Linked DNA regions of Homo sapiens: region 2 is linked to region 1. A link means that fine-mapping ties the variant in region 1 to the expression of a gene that starts in the linked region. Tissue or cell type: unexposed skin. Region 1 holds a variant in brackets; the other region holds the start of a gene. All regions are shown on one strand. Distances are from middle to middle.

Region 1 (2,500 bases):
TGATCCGCCCGCCTCAGCCTCTCAAAGTGCTGGGATTACAGGCGTGAGCCACCGCGCCCGGCCACATCTGGCTAATTTTTTGTATTATTAGTAGAGACAGGGTTTCACCATGTTGGCCAGGCTGGTATCGAATTCCTGACCTCGTGATCCACCCACCATAGCCTCCCAAAGTGCTGGGATTACAGGCATGAGCCACCGTGCCCAGCCTAATTTTTGCATTTTTAGTAGAGACAGTGTTTTGCCACCTTGGCCAGGCTTGTCTCAAACTCCTGACCTCAGGTGATCCACCCACCTCAGCCTCCCAAAGTGCTGGGATTAAAGGAGTGAGCCACCACGCTCAGCCAACACCTGGCTAATTTTTGTATTTTTAGTACAGATTGGGTTTCGCCATGTTGCCCAGGCTGGTCTTGAACTCCTGACCTCAAACTATCATCCGCCTCGGCCTCCCAAAGTGCTGGGATTACAGGCATGAGCTACTGCACCTATCCCATTCCCCCTTTTTTTTAAGAAGGTAACAAGGTTTTTGTCAGGGTCTGTGAGCTGGACATGTGTGCAGTGGTTAAATAATTTGGCCTAGGCTGTGCACCCACTGTCCTTTTTTTTTTTTTTTTTTTTTCTAGAGAGCTATTGGAATAGGGGCCAGGCTGCTGCAGGCTCAGGGCAGCTCAACTTCCAAATCCTGTAGCTTCAGACTTGTGGTCCTTCACGACATGCTGAGTCACAATCTACTGCTCCCTCAAGCCCAATGTCACCACAAGCAGAGTCTCTAAAGGACATTCTCAGAAGATGGTACTGTCAATGTGAGAGGCACCTCTCCTCCCCTCGAGTTCTGGTGCAGCTGATAACTAGAGATCTCAAATGCTTCCCTGGGCTTTACTTTCTACTTCAACAAGTACTGATTGCGGGCCTCTGGAGCCCACACACTGCCCTATACACTGGGTAACACGGAGCACTCAGGAATACACGATCTTGGCGGGGCGTGATGGCTGAGGCCTGTAATGTCGGCATTTTGAATGACTGAGGTAGGAGGATGGCTTGAGCCCGGGAGGTAGAGGCTGCAGTGAGCCGTGATCGCGCCACTGCACTCCAGCCTGGGCGGCAGAGGGAGACCCTATTTCAAAAAATAAATAAATAATAATAAAATTAAAAAAAAAAAAAAGGAACTCACGATGTGGCCGTAAAATGGGTTACATCCTAGTTAGGAAAATAGATGTTTGCAAAGGTACATAAATATGCAAGCATCAAAACAATAACAACAACAACAAAAATTTAAAAAATGCAAGCATCTACGTGTGGCACAGTCCCGCGGGCCGGGCGGCTTACTGTGGTTGAGGTCACCAGAAAGACTGTGGAACAGACGCATCGCGAGTGGGTCTCGGAGGGGTGGCGCATATGGAAAGAGG[A/G]GAAGGAGGGCTTTTTTGATTGAAAGCGAATACCGGCAAGAGGGCCTTTGGCACGTTCAGGGAACCTTGCCTTACACGCAGACACAGGGTTGGGGATCTGTTCGGAAACGCCTGAAAGATCAGGCTCAGGAGAAGACCACTTTTTGGCCGCTTCAGTACTGCGGTCAACCAGCTGGAAAGAACCCCCGCCCTCTACTTTTCAAATTAATCTCCGGCCGGCGCACGCGCCTCGTGGGGCGGGCGCTGTGCTACCATAGACATGCAGAGCTAGATCGTATACCTCCTCGGAGGCGGACATGTTGGGTCCTGGCCAAAAAGTTGGAAACACCTGGGGCCACTACCGAGGTAGGCTGCTCCTCCCAAGAAAGTGAGACCGAAAGAGCTCCCGTGGAAGCGGTCAAAGCAGGGGCGGGGCGAACCTGTGACATGCCCCTCGGAAGAACAGGCTTTTAGAGAGTCGCCAGGCTCCCTGCCCTCATCCGAGATGGCGGCCTGAGGGCGCTCTAGCCGACGCTCTTCGGATGCCCGGAGGGGGCGGTGGCCTTGCCTCTGGCTCTGAGGCGGCGGCGCCGGGCGCTGCGAAGGCTCGGCCGCTGTAGTCAGTGGTGTGGGGTGCGCAAGGGCACGGACCTCGGAGCTCTCCCCGCTTGCGCCGAGTTTCTCAGCGCCTTCCCCACCCAAACCGGGGTCTCGCAGTCGGAAGCACTCAGAGTGCAGCCCCGCGCGGGGCCGGTCGTAACCGCGCCGCGGGCCGGACGATGCCCAAGAAGCTGCTGCTGTTGCCCCCGCCCTCCGCGTCCTCGGCTTTCCGCGTCCCGCGCGCCCGCCCCGTTCCCCCGCCGGCCATGAACGCCGCTCGCACCGGCTACCGAGTCTTCTCGGCCAACTCCACGGCCGCCTGCACGGAGCTGGCCAAGCGCATCACAGAGTAAGGGGGCGGTGGGAGGGCCGGGCCGGGGGCGGCGGCGCCTAGCTCTCCTTCGCGCCCGGAGGGACCCGCTCCCCTCCACCCGCCCCACCTCCTGCACCTGGGGCGGGAGGCGCGGGCCTTCCCAGCCGGACAAAGCTTGGAGGTGACGGATACCGCCCCCCGCTCC
Region 2 (2,500 bases), 720 kb after region 1:
CTGCCCTAATCCTGGGAAAAAGGGAGGCTCAGCAGGCCGGCAGCCATTCTCTCCCAAGCTGGACAGCCAAATCCCTCTTTTAAGCCCCCTGAATAAAAGAGCTGAAATGAACTTGCAGAATAAGCAGGCCCTCGGGGCCCCTCTGCTGCACAGCAGGCGGAGCAGGAGGCGCTCTGAGCAGAGCCCCCAGCCCTCCCCTAGTGCAGGGTCCCAGCAGCAGGGAGAGTGCAGGTGTGTGCAGGAGGCTGGCTGACTTCCCTGCAGGGAAGCGACCCAGCATGTCCCCGAAGACCTCTCCGTGTTTATGGTAGACTGTGGCCCTTCACCCTGGGGGCAGGGGACCCTTGCTGCTCCCTCCCTGTCCCCCCTTCTTCTGTGGCCATTGCCACTCACCTGGGAGCTCAGGTGTTGGGGGCTGAGCAGCAGTGCCCCAGCGCGGAGCCTCCACGTGCTGTCCTCGTACTTCCTTCGTGGGCGCCGCTGCTCCCCTGGGCGCCTCAGCCCAGCTCCTCTGCTGACAGCCAGCTGCTGTCTCTGCCTGGCTTTTTTGTTGTTGGTCGTCCTGGAGATCCAAGTGTCAAATTACCGTCGCGAGGGGGAGCCCGAGGAAGCCCTGCTTGGGAACTTGTCCTCCAACTTCATGTCCCGGTGCCTCACCTCTGCCCTGAGAGCGCTGCTCAGGGACAAGACAAGCTCCCTCTCTCCTCCTCCTTCCTCCTCCTCTCCCTCTCCCCGACTCCCACGCCGTGGGCTGGGCCTGGGTTGGGAGCTGAAGAAAGAAGTCGGCTCTCTGCCTTCCTGGCCAGGAGGACCCTGGGGAGGCTCCACCTGAGCCTGTGGAGGGGAGTCCTGCAGCGCTCTCAGGTCTGGGGCACCCACCCTGCCCTCAGGAAGGCCACCCCTTCTGTCCCTCTGGCCACTCCCTGGCTGGTCCCTCCCTCTGGCCTCTCTCAGGAACAACAGTAAACAGTGGGGAGCTGGTGGCCCTCTCAAGCTGAGCAGGAGGCTTTGCAACCAGTCCCTGGGGAGGCCCTTGTGCCGCTCAGCATCTGAAGGCGTCTTGGGGGAGAACTTGGAATCCTGAGTGACCTGGGAGTGGCCTGCGCGCCCGGCAAGGCGCCTCATGTTCCTTGTGAGGTGAGGGCCTTCTGCTGGGGCTGTGACCGCACTCCTGGCCCAGCTGTCAGGGCAGGGCTCCAGAGTCCAGGGGCCGGGCCCTGTGACATTTGCCTGGTTGTGCCTCCCAGCAGGCTAGGCTGTGTGGAGAGAAACCGACCCCAGCCCCGCTGTCAATGGAGCTCTTTGAGTCCGAGCACAAAACCCCAGTGAGTCAGGGCCTGAGGAGGGCAGGGGGAGGAAGCCAGCCATGTGGTCACACCACTCGGATGCCAGAGCCTCCCAGAGGCTGGACAGGCGGCCGCTGTGCGGGCGCACGGACTCCTGGGGATGAACCATTTGTTGCATTTACTCATTGGAGCAGAGTGGGGGCAGGAGCGCCCTCTGGTGGCCGCCTCGGCTGTCCCAGCCCAGGTCAGGCTTCAGAGCTGCATTCACTCAGCTAAAAGAAAGTCAGCCAGGCCCTGCTTCCTTACCGGGGTGTTGCAATCAGCCTTGCATCCTTGAGCCTGCGCCTTGGGGTCGCAGCCCCTCAAAGGGCTTCTTGCAGCCGCAGCAGTGCTCACACTGGGAGGAGTTCTAGTTAGAGCAGTTAATGCCAGCTATTCTTGTCCCTGGGATGTGGCACCCCAGACAGCCCTGCCTGTGTTCCAGCATCTCCTCTTGGGCTTCCCTACCCTGTGCCACGTTCCTGGTGGCAGGAATGGCTGTTTATAAGGAGCCTGAGAGAGCTATGGCCCCTCTTGCGGCCTCTGCAGCTGCCCCAAGGGTCGACAGCCACCCCCATGCAGAGGGAACAGAGATGCGACAGAGCCTCGTGGGCCAGCCAGAGGCTGCTCCCTGCTCCCAGCATGGGCAGAGGCCGCTCACCCCAGGAGGGCTGCAGCAGGGTTGAGACAGAGGAAGACGAGAGGAGGACTCCAGGCGAGGCTGCGTCTCCCTGGCTAAAGGCCCCACCTGTGACACCCTCACGGGTTGATGATGGGACATATTACTACACAGCCGTGCCTGCCTTAGCAATGCAAATACGTTTTGAGAAATTTAACTTGTCATTGTGCGGTCACAGAGTATACTTAGGGAAATCAAACAGCAATTCCAGGGAAGAGAAGGAAAAAAATATCAAGCGGCACAGCCTCCTACACACCCAGGCCATGCGCTACAGCTTGTTGCTCCTAGACCACAAACCTGTACATCACGTTACTGTCCTGAGTACCGTATGCAGTTGTAACACAGTGGTATTCACATATCTAAGCACACATAAGCATAGAAAAAGTACAGTAGAAATACAGTGTTAGAATCGTAGGGGACCACCATTGGCTGTGCAGTCATTCCATGGGGCATGACTGTACTGTAATGCACTTCAGACATCACCTCAGCCATCTTC

Direction of the effects. Positions count from the first base shown, and alleles are read on the strand shown. Sizes are in standard deviations (SD) of each study's normalised expression.
For the expression in unexposed skin of the gene that starts at base 1,162 in region 2, allele G in region 1 goes with a higher level than allele A (moderate effect, 0.58 SD a copy in GTEx).

Evidence for each region. PIP is the estimated chance that this variant, and not a neighbour inherited with it, causes the effect.
Region 2: SMIM5 starts here. The variant in region 1 is fine-mapped to the expression of SMIM5 in unexposed skin (GTEx, PIP 0.94).

What each region holds. Positions count from the first base shown.
Region 1 is chr17:76,353,365-76,355,864 of GRCh38, reverse strand. It overlaps PRPSAP1 (phosphoribosyl pyrophosphate synthetase associated protein 1), which reads left to right and starts at 1,949. Exons shown (of 10, transcript NM_002766.3): 1 at 1,949-2,331. The coding sequence starts at 2,162. RefSeq lists enhancers at 1,603-1,872, 1,119-1,983 and a silencer at 2,153-2,472. The variant A/G (reference allele first, on the strand shown) is at 1,404.
Region 2 is chr17:75,632,096-75,634,595 of GRCh38, reverse strand. SMIM5 (small integral membrane protein 5) reads right to left here and starts at 1,162. Exons shown (of 3, transcript NM_001162995.3): 1 at 394-1,162. The region is part of intron 8 of RECQL5 (RecQ like helicase 5); the gene reads left to right. RefSeq lists enhancers at 730-1,409, 1,410-2,090.